Regions from separate parts of the Homo sapiens genome. Here region 2 is linked to region 1. Evidence: fine-mapped expression QTL. A gene starts in region 1. The other region holds a variant in brackets. All regions are shown on one strand. Distances are between the middles of the regions. Region 1 holds the start of DRAP1 (DR1 associated protein 1). Region 2 overlaps SART1 (spliceosome associated factor 1, recruiter of U4/U6.U5 tri-snRNP).

Region 1 (5,358 bases):
TGCGCCCTCCCCAGCCTCACCGAGTACCTCTGCTTTACAGGCAGCACAGCTCCTGGGTCTGCTCTGAAAGGTTATCTGGATGAACAGACTGTGTCACTGCCCTGCTCAAAAACCACCTTCAAGACCCTCCACCATCTCTCTATGTTTGCTCCTTTCCACCTGCCCTTCACTACACTGGACACAGGACTCTACAGTTTCCAAGACCTGTACCTGTTCCCTGTCCCACTTATCCCTTCACAGCAGACTACAGGGGGCAGAACAGTCTCCATCAGAGAGACAAGGGGCTGCTCAGAGCAGGGCAGCAGCCCGCCGGGGGTCAGCAGCCCACCGGGGGTCAGCAGCACCACGTGGCAAGTGTCCCCCGCATGCCCAGCACTTGCAAGCTCTCCCAACTCCCTTCTGTCCGCAGCTGTGGTGCACTCAGCAGACCCAGGGCCTCCAGCCTCCCCGGATGACCCCTCTCTCCCCTCGCTGCCACCTCACCTGCCACTGACGCGGCCCCAGCTCCCAGTTTCTTTTTTTTTTTTTTTTGACATGGAGTCTCACTCTGCTGCCCAGGTTGGAGTGCAGTGGCGTGATCTCAGCTCACTGCCACCTCCACCTCCCAGGTTCAAGCGATTCTCCTGCCTCAGCCTCCCTAGTAGCTGGGATTACAGGCATGCACCACCACACCCAGCTAATTTTTGTATTTTTAGTAGAGACGGGGTTTCACCATGTTGGCCAGGCTGGTCTTGAACTCTTGACCTCAGGTGATCTGCCCGCCTCAGCCTCCCAAAGTGTTGGGATTACAGGCGTGAGCCACCGCACCCGGCCCCAGCTCCCAGTTTCATGTGGGGAAGGCAGGTGGGTGGATGGGATGGCAACCATGACGTCCTGCGCAGAGCCTGGAACAGACACTGAGATTCCCTTTTATTTTTTTTTTTAATAAATTTAAGAACAGCTCTACCTTCTCTCCTCCCCCCAGAGCAACTAAAACCAACTAAAAGGGGCTATGGTCTGGGGGGCAGAAGGCGCTAGGAGTCGTAATCTTCTTCGTCCTCTTCATCAGGTGCTGAGGGGCCCGGGGGCGCTGGGGGCAAAGGCAGAGTAGAGGCGAAGGGCAGGAAGGGTGTCGGGGGGCTGCAGGGCAGAAGGCAGGAGAGAGTCAGGCCTGAGCCCCACCGTGCCCTCCACAGGGGCAGCTGCCAAGACCCTCCCTCCCCCATCTGACCCTCCCACCACCACCCTCCAGATCCATGCGGCCAAGGCCCAGGGCAGCTCACGCAGGGCAGGCCCAGGCCCCACCCACGGGCCCTGGCAGGGTGGAGCAGGATCTTTCGGGAGAACAGTCTCCTGCCTTCAAGCCCTCCTCAGTTATTCTCCTTCCACCCCACAAATCTGCCACAATCAACAAGACCAAGGGGCCAGGGAGAACAAGAGGGGTAAGTTGGCTCTGGGGAGTCTGCCAGCACCCTCCCATGCCTCTGGGCTGCTCACCTCTGAAAGTGGGCAGAGGGGTGGCTGGCCTGGGGTGGGGGTTGTGATGTCTCCTCTTCCCCATCAGTATCTGTGTCCTCAGATTCATCCTGTGAGCACCGCAGAGGTCAGAGTTGACAAGAAAAGACACGAACCCATCACTGGGAGTGGCAGGGACAGCAGTAGACCCTCATAGCCCCAATTTACAAATAAACCAGTGAGCAAACAGGTTGCAGAAAAGGATGAGAGCTGGCCTCCTGCCAGTTCAGCCTGGGGCGAGGCTGCCTGTCCCATCACCAAGGGCAGGGCGAAGGGCTGGGGCCTCACTCACCTCCTGCTCCGAGTCTGTCCCGGACAGCTTCTTGTCCTTGCTTTTCGTTCCCATCCCACCGTTCTTCCGGCCGCCGCTGCCTGGCTTCCGGCCCCTTTGGGAAGGTACAGTCCATCTGCCCGGAGTGCTCCCTACTCCTTGGCCACCCCCAAGCCCTGTGGCCTTGGCCTTCCCCACTGTATGCCAGGCCCTGGCCCCACCTGCGGGCGCCCTTGTCCCCATCCATGTGGTTGTCTTCCCCGTCCCCCTGCATGTCGGGAACAGATGCCACCAGGTCCTTCAAGAAGTCAAACTGCTGCTCCAGCTCGATGCACTGCTTCCTGGAAGAGGTGAGGAGGGGCTGGCACTCAAGAGGGGCCCAGACACCCAAACCCGCAGTGGGTGGCAGCAAGGGGCCCCAGATGTCAGGCTGGAGCCCGGGCCGATCTCCGCTCCCGGGCCTGCCCTGCTTTACTCAGGTGGCTCCCTCTGCCTGGAAGCCCAGCCTCTCCTCTGCCAGTCTGTGGCCTTGCTGGTGTCCCGGCTGCCGCCCACCTCCCTCGCCACCCAGGCTCTGCCTTCCTCAGTGTGTGAACTCCCCGCGCCAAACCCGCCGGCCCCTCCCGGCTCCTCGCCGCTCACAGGTGGGATGTGGTCATGGTCTTCGCGTTCCGCGACTGGGTCACCTGGCAGGCCTTCTTCAACAGCGACTCTAGGAAGAGCTCGAGCGCCCGGGCTGAGGAGCGTCAAGGAGAACTCCGGGGCAGGAGAGGGCGACCCGCTGCCTCCCTCCCCCACGCCCCTCGACCCGGTCCGCCCCCGGCAGGATACAGATGATGACAGGCACCGCCGCCGCCACCTTCCCAATCTCTTCGTCCGTCTGCATGATCTTCTTGATCCGCGCCTGCGGGTGGGGGAGCAGAGTTCAGACCCCGTCGCCACCGTCCCCTAAGGGGGTGCTGGGGGAGGAAGGGGCATCCCCGGAGAAAGGGGGCGGGGGACACGGACGCGGGGAGGGCATGGAGGGGGCGGGGCGTCCAGGCCCCCGAACACCGCGGCGCGCCCGCCTGCCCAGCGGGAACTGGGCCCAAGCCACCCGGGAGCCGGGCCCACTCCTGCCGGGCTCTGCCACGTGCTCACCGGCGGGAACCGCGCGTTGTACTTCTTCTTCTTGCTCGGCATCTCGGGGCCTCTCTCGCCGCGTCGGGTCCAGCGCCGCCGCCCGCAGCCTCCCGGCTCCCGGGCCTGCTCGCCGCCCGCCCGTCGCGGTTCCCCTGGGTCCTGGTGCCGCCCGCTCCGCCCCCGCCGTTTCCCGCGGAGTCCTAGCGCCGCCGGTTAAGACGCCGCTCGCAGGGCCCTAGTGCCCTCCTCTTGAAGCCTCCTGGCCGGTGCGCGTCCCTCCCCAGTCTGGACCGCCGCTCCCGCCCGCCCCCAAGGCCAGAAGAGCGAACGTTGGCCCCGCCCCCCGCGGCCCGCCCCTCCCGGGGTTCCCGCGATGGCCCCGCCCCCGAGTCAGCACCTCCCCGTCGGCCCCGCCCCTTCCCCTGCCGGCCCCGCCCCACAGCGCGGCCGCTGCGGCCGCTGAGGCCCGCGGCTCCGCCCTGTGGCTGCGCCTGTCTATAAAGTTGTTGTTGAGGTGGCGCGGCGCTAAGATGGCGGCGGCGGCGGCGGCGGCCGTGGCGGGGGTGGGGCGCGGTGGCGGTGGCGCGGAGCCACGGCAGGAGCGGAGCCGGGCCCGGGGCTGGGCCGGCGTCGAACGCAGCGAAGGCCGGAGGTGACTGCGGGCGGCGGGAGGGGCAGGGCAGGGCCGGGGCGGGAGCACAGCTCGGGCCCGTGGGCGTTAATGGCGGCGGGCGCGGCACGGCCGGAGCCTGGCTCTCCTGCAGGCTCTAACAAGCCCTGGTTCGAGTCTGGGAACCGCCCCATTGGCCTCGGAACGGCCTGTAACCTCTCTGGACTTCAGCGTCCTCGTCTGTAAGTGGGCCCGATAACGCCTGCCTGGGAGGCCTGGCCTTACAGAGCCGGCCTCGGGAGCTGCGCGAACGTGCGCTTCTTTGCGTTCCTCTATTAAATGCCAGCGCACCGGATACCTGCCAGGAAAAGGGGGCCTTGGCAGGGCCGGGAGGTGTAGCTGGGGCTGGTTGCTCCCACGCCTGGATTCACCCTTCGGCCCTGCCACGCACTGCAGGTGTGACCTTGGGCAAGTCCTTTTTCTCAGCCTCAGTTTCCTTTTCTGTAAGTCAAGGAGAATAGTAATAACTGCAGCAACCCTTCTGGAGCGCTGACTCCTCAGGCATCTAATTTTCATAGCAGATCTACGGGACAGGAACAGTTGTTATCCCATTGTAAAGATGAGGCAACTGAGGCGCATCGACAGTAACTCTTACTCAAGGCCACAGTTTAATCCAGTGCCTGGCATCTGTAGTTATTGTCTCAGACCCTGCCCTGACTCGGTTCCCTCACAGCAGGATGGAACCAGGTGAGGAGCTGGAAGAGGAGGGCTCTCCAGGTGGCCGTGAGGATGGCTTCACCGCCGAGCACCTGGCTGCAGAGGCCATGGCAGCTGACATGGACCCCTGGCTAGTGTTTGATGCCCGCACAACGCCTGCCACTGAGCTGGATGCCTGGCTGGCCAAGTACCCACCATCCCAAGTTACCCGCTATGGGGACCCCGGTTCACCCAACTCAGAGCCTGTGGGCTGGATTGCAGTGTATGGGCAGGGCTACAGCCCCAACTCCGGGGACGTGCAGGGCCTGCAGGCAGCCTGGGAAGCTCTGCAGACCAGTGGGCGGCCCATCACACCGGGTACCCTGCGCCAGCTCGCCATCACCCACCACGTGCTCTCGGGCAAGTGGCTTATGCATCTGGCACCGGGCTTCAAGCTGGACCACGCCTGGGCTGGCATTGCCCGGGCCGTGGTTGAAGGCCAGCTTCAGGTGGCCAAGGTGAGCCCACGTGCCAAGGAGGGTGGGCGCCAGGTCATCTGTGTTTACACGGACGACTTCACGGACCGCTTGGGTGTACTGGAGGCGGATTCAGCCATCCGTGCAGCGGGCATTAAGTGCCTGCTCACCTACAAGCCTGATGTCTACACCTACCTGGGCATCTACCGGGCCAATCGCTGGCACCTCTGCCCCACTCTCTATGAGAGCCGTTTCCAGCTTGGGGGTAGTGCCCGTGGCTCCCGAGTGCTTGACCGTGCCAACAACGTGGAACTGACCTAGGGGGGCCAAATTGGGGAGACTGCCCACTCCCCCCTCCATGCTGGGGTTGGATCCTCCTGTCTTCCTCCTTGTCCTATGAAGGCCACACCCCCCAGCTCTGGGGACTCCTAGGTCACTTGGGAACTACCTGCATCTTCAGTCCCCTTGAACTTCTGCCCTCTGTTCAGGGCTGACACAAGCCCCACAGGCTGGGGGGCTCCGGTTCCCTGAGGGATGAGCCTTCAGCCTCCCTTTGTAATGCTGCTCCTCTCCACTGCCCAGCACCATGAGTTGGGTGCAGACACCTAGAAGGAGAGACTTCTTGGAACGCTCATCCCCCGCTATACCTCCCCTTCCTCCTGCATCTCCCCTTCTTTCCTTCCCCCTCA
Region 2 (5,358 bases), 59 kb before region 1:
ATTTTGTAGGTAAGACAGAGACTTGGTGACCTGCCTCAGGTCAGGCAGCAGTGAAGGGAAACATAGAGGGCAAACATAAGCACCCTGTCCTCCCTGAGTGCCACCCACCTGGCTGAGGCCCTGGTTGAGGGCTCACTGACCCTCAGGGCAGCTTTTGAGCCATCGCTGCCCCTCAGGTACCTGAGGGCAGGGGAAGCACCGTTGGTGTCCGGCTACCGAGCAGCAGAGGTGGGAAGCCGCCTTGGGTTCTGTCTGCTCTGGGGGCTCAGGCCTCCAGGGATTTGGTAGTCCCCAACCCCTCCCAGCCCTGGGCACATGGGCAGGACACAGCTGGGGAGCAGAGCAGAGTACACCAGGGCAGAGAAGGGAAGTCTCTGGGCTAGGACCAAGAGCCAGAGATGCAGAGAGGAAGCAAGATGGCGCGAACGAGGAGGCCCCTGGTTCACCACGTAGTCTGCCCAGTTACTAGAGCCAGAAAGTTAGTCGGCTGCAGAGCTGAAGCTGGTCTTTTCTACCCTGGCTCCACCTGGGCTCTAGCCCAGGCTGCGGTCATTTTCAGCTGTGACAGCAGCTTTGACAGCCTCCTAATGGGCCATTTCCTGCAGACGTCAAGGTGTGACTTGGACAGTAGGCCAGGGCCTGGGGTCCATGCCAGGGACACCTGACTGCCCAGTCCCAACCCTGGAAGCACCTCCTAGGCTTCCTTTTTTTTGAAACAGGGTCTCATTCTGTCACCCAGGCTGGAGTGCAGTGGCACCATCTCGGCTCACTGTAACCTCCACCCCCTGGGCTCCAGCGATTCTACTGAGTAGGTGGGATTACAGGCACTTGCCATCATGCCGTTTTTTGTTTTTTTTTTTTGAGATGGAGTCTCGCTGTGTCGACCAGGCTGGAGTGCAATGGCGCAATCTCAGCTCACTGCAAGCTCCGCTTCCCAGGTTCACGCCATTCTCCTGCCTCAGCCTCCCGAATAGCTGGGACTACAGGCACCCGCCACCACGCCCGGCTAATTTTTTGTATTTTTAGTAGAGACAGGGTTTCAACGTGTTAGCCAGAATGGTCTCGATCTCCTGACCTCGTGATCCACCCGCCTTGGCCTCCCAAAGTGCTGGGATTACAGGCGTGAGCCACCGCACCCAGCCTACATGTCAATTTTTTTTTGTATTTTTAGTCAAAGACGGAGTTTTACCGTGTTGGCCAGGCTGGTCTTGAACTCCTGGCCTCAAGTGATCCATCCACCTCAGCCTCCCAGAGTGCTGGGATTACAGGCATGTGCCACTGTTCCCAGCCTCCTCCTAGGCTTTTGAGAGAAACAGACTGTGACTGCCCCAAGTCCTAGTCCCAGCCTAGACACCCCAGGACACCCTTCCTGAGGAAGCCAAGGAAGCAGCCAAGGTGAAAACAGAATCAAGAGTCAGATGTCAAACTATAGAGAATACAGAGCTCAAGGAAGGGCACCCAAAGACTCAGCCCCGCAGCTCCCGCTGCACAGAAGTAATGGTGTCAGTGCCAACCGTGCATTTTCAGGCTAAGACTCAGCCCCGCAGCTCTAGCCGTGCAGAAGCGACAGCATCAATGCCAACCATGCATTTTCAGGCTACTGGGTTTTGCACCTTGTCTACAGTTTCCTCACCCCAAGATTATTTTAAATTTTTTTTATTTTTTTTGAGACAGGGTCTGACTGTCACCTAGGCTGCAGTGTGGTGGCTCAATCAGGGCCCACTGCAGCCTGTGTCTCCCAGGTTCAAGTGATCCTCCCACCTCAGCATCCCAAGTAGCTGGGACTACAGGCGCTCACCACCACGCCTGGCTAATCTTTGTATTTTTGGTAGAGATGGGGTTTTGCCACCTTACTCAGGTTGGTCTCAAACTCCTGGGCTCAAACAGTCCTCCTGCCTCAGCCTCCTAAAGTGCTGTGATTACAAGCATGAGCCACTGCGCCCAGCTGATTATTCTTTAAAGTTTACAGTTTTCTTCAATTTATTTTTTGGTTTCATTTTTAAAATCTTAAAATGTGGGAGCCATCTGAGAAGTATGTGGGTGTACGTGGGGCCAGGCACCAGTATCCTGGGCACCCAAGGTGGCCGTTTGTCTTTCTATGGATTTGAGGCTCACATGTCCCCCAGCAGCTCAGTCACACTCTATCACAGAGTTCAGGCCAAGGAATCTCATCTTTCTGGGTCACTGTACACGGGACAAGTCTCCCAGGAGGCACTGAGCTCAGCCCTCCCCATACCGCGTGCACCAAATACTCCCAGCCCAACCCTGGGAGTTTCACTCCTCTAGACACAGACCAGGGTGGCACAGGACAGCCAGGACAGAAGGTGGCACCTGTGCCCTACCCAAAGCCCAATCCCCAGCCCACCAGGCTGGGCAGTCCTGGGCTGCCCTGACCGGGAGACATTACAGGACAGTGACCTGTGCAGCCCC[C/G]GAGGCCAGGAGAGAGCAGGGTGATGAGTTTCTAAAACCGCCTTCCACTTTCTATCAGAGAGCCGGCCCTGCAGAGGTGTGACCGACAGCCAGGGGAGAAGGAAGGAGCCTTAGAGGACCCGGGCTCGCTCTCTCTTCCATCGTTTAGTTGTTTGTGTCATTTGATGGCCAGGTCTCACCTAGCAGGAGCCAGACTCTGTGCCACACCCAACCAAAGATCCAACCCTGGAATCTGTACCACGACCAGGGAGGAAAAAATAAGGAGGGAGCTTTATTTAATATGAAGGTTGAGGCAGGGCCGGGGCGGGAGGGCGCTGTCACTTGGTGATGGTGTTCCTGCAGAGAAGAACAGGGGCGTGAGGCTGCAGAGGCGGGCACAGGCCACGCCACCCCTCCCCACCACACCCTACCCCACCAGCCTCGAGCCACTCACGCGTTCATGCTCTTGCCGCTGCCGCTGAGCACGATGTAGGGGGTCTTCTGAGCCTTCTGCTTCTCCTGGAGCAGGGCCACGGTGCCCAGGGGCGTGTCGCTGGAGCTCATCTTCTTCAGGAGCTGAGGGGTCGGGGCCACTCAGAAAGGGCTGCAGCAGGCCCCACACACCAGCCACCCCTGCCCCGGCAGGCACAGGGCCCCCCACATCCCCAAGGGCACCCACCGCCTCCTCGTCCAGCTTCTTCATCCGCCGCTCTGTCTTCATCTTGCCTGAGCCCTTGCCATGGAAGCGGTGCGACAGCTGCCGGAAAGCCTGGGGACGCGGGGCATGAGAGGAGATGCAGGGCCCTGGGTGGGGCCGGAGCCACCTGTGCCCACAAGGTGTATAATAACAGGGCGGGTGTTGATTGACCCCAATGCCAGGCCTGGGGTGCAGTGGGAAGGGGATGGGAAAAGAGCACAGACGCTGGCACCCTGCAGGGCCCCAGCAGAGGCCGGGAGACCAGCTTGGCTAGTGGATGCGCTGCCATGGGGGCAGAGCATGGGGAACCTGGAGACCTGCCACGCAGGGGCTGGGCCTGGACGCTGGGGCTGGGGCTGGGGCTGCAGGGAGACAAACCCCAGAGAGCAAGGGGGCAGCTGAGTGGTAGGGCAGGACGGTCGGGCGGCCTACGAGAGTGCTGGAAGGGCCTGGACGCTGGAATGGCCCTGCGGGCCAGGAAAGCCAGTGAAGGGCTCACGCAGGTGAGGACAGGAGGGCAGAGGTCCCGAGTGCCTGTCTGACCCTCCTGCCAGGCTTGCAAAGAGACTGCTGTGCCCACTAGAGACAAACTGAGGCACAGCCTTCCTCAGCCCTGAGGGCCCCCTCCCCATCCGTGGCATTCACCAGGCCCCCAGCCAGAGGCTGGTGGAGCCAGGACCCTGGGGCATTGCATGGCCCGGGGCATTGCATGGCCCTGGGCTTGGCCTCCCTGTGGCAGGCCGGGCCTCCGCCTGCAAAAGGCCCTGCTCACCTCCTTGGGTGTGAGTTTCCGGCCCGTCTCATCCACGTATTCGATCTTAACGTCGGGTTTGTAGCCGTCCTTCTCCTTGAAGTCCTGTGTGAAGCCTCGGTATTCCTCCCTCCGGCTGTACTTGTCATCGATGGCCCTGGCCCGAGACAGAGGAGGCCTTAGTGTGAGGAGCTGCCGCCTGCTGTGGTCCCGAAGCTCCAAGCTGGCACAGGCCCCTCAGCCCTGCACAGGCCCCACCACACTCACATCTTATCCTCGATGCAGTACACGGCTGAGGGCAGCGACTTGTTGGGGGCCTTCACCCGGGCCACCTTCTGCACTGTGGTCTCCAGCAGCCCTAGGGATGGAGGGGTTGTGAGACTCCCAACCCCTCGAGAGCCACAGCTCCAGGGCCGCCTGAGAAGGCAGAGCAGGCCCTGTGGGGGCACCTCCCTTTCCTTGCCTCTGGAAAGCCATCAGGCCTGTTCTACAGGCAAAGCAAAGATGCAGAAATGAGCCCCTTGCCAAGGGTCACTGGCCAGGGAAATGGCAGAGCTGGGGTCCTAACACCAGGGCTCTCTGTGCCACAGCTGGAACAGTTTCAACTCCCCTCTCCTTCCCCAAGCAGGTGTGGAGCCTCAAAGGCAGAGCAGACGGACAGATGCCACAGTGGAGGGGAAGGAGTGGCTCTGGGCCGGACAGCTGGCTCCAGCATTGGGACTGAGAGAAAGGGGCAGCAGAGGGGACCGGAGGGGGCCCTGCCTGCACCTGCAGCAGCACCCAAGCCCACCCAAGTCATGGCTGCCCTGAGCTCCCTACCTTTGTTCTGACACAGGAGCAGGGCAGCTGCCAGCCCCCTATTCACGATCGGTTCCTCGTCCAGGATGGTGGTGGAGGAAGCAGAGAACTACGGGACACGTGGCGGGGGTGGTTAGCAGGCCATACCGGCTCTTCTCAGCCCCACCCACTGGTCACCACCTGCCAGGCACCAGCCCTCCACAACATTTAATTTCCTCATTTACTCCTCAGATCGCCCTGGGAGGTCTGCAGAGCCCACTCTGGATGAGGAGGCTGAGGCTCTGGACACCGAGCCCGGTGCTCATCTCCAGCTTGAGCACCCCCAAACGCCCACCCCCCAGCGGCGCGGCCCTCACATCCTGCTGCTGCTTCTCCTCGTCCAGGTTCACCGTGCTCCAGCCGATGTTCTCCTCCCCGTCAGATTCGGAGCCACCGTTGGCTGAGCGCTCCTCATCCCGTTCAAAGTCCTGGGGCACAAAAGACCAGGGTCGGCCCAGGCCCCAGCCAGCCCACCCAGCCGAGGGAAGCAGAGGGCGGGGCCGCCCCAGACGCACCATGAGCTCCTCCTGCTCCTCGCGATTGCCAGCCAGCCCGTAGGTGGGGATCTCCCCCAAGGTGCGGCAGAACTCGGACGTGGCGTTGAACACGATGGCCCCCTTCCGCTCGGGATCCTCATCCTCCTCCCAGCCCCGCTGGCGAGACT

Evidence for each region. PIP is the estimated chance that this variant, and not a neighbour inherited with it, causes the effect.
Region 2: its variant is the best candidate, but not a certain one, in a credible set for the expression of DRAP1 in whole blood (INTERVAL, PIP 0.59).

Annotation. Positions count from the first base shown.
Region 1 is chr11:65,917,091-65,922,448 of GRCh38, reverse strand. It overlaps DRAP1 (DR1 associated protein 1), which reads right to left and starts at 3,023. Exons shown (of 7, transcript NM_006442.4): 1 at 2,906-3,023; 2 at 2,597-2,669; 3 at 2,408-2,501; 4 at 1,987-2,106; 5 at 1,787-1,880; 6 at 1,477-1,565; 7 at 886-1,119. The coding sequence starts at 2,947. The coding sequence ends at 1,014. C11orf68 (chromosome 11 open reading frame 68) reads left to right here and starts at 3,387. Exons shown (of 2, transcript NM_001135635.2): 1 at 3,387-3,539; 2 at 4,231-5,358. The coding sequence starts at 3,418. The coding sequence ends at 4,990. RefSeq lists enhancers at 2,430-3,350, 3,351-4,270 and a silencer at 2,564-3,633.
Region 2 is chr11:65,976,420-65,981,777 of GRCh38, reverse strand. SART1 (spliceosome associated factor 1, recruiter of U4/U6.U5 tri-snRNP) reads right to left here. Exons shown (of 20, transcript NM_005146.5): 13 at 5,210-5,358; 14 at 5,012-5,122; 15 at 4,677-4,764; 16 at 4,125-4,215; 17 at 3,879-4,014; 18 at 3,089-3,178; 19 at 2,864-2,985; 20 at 1,641-2,766. The coding sequence ends at 2,748. Among named protein-coding and RNA genes, the nearest start is that of SART1, 17 kb to the right of the region's middle. The variant C/G (reference allele first, on the strand shown) is at 2,431.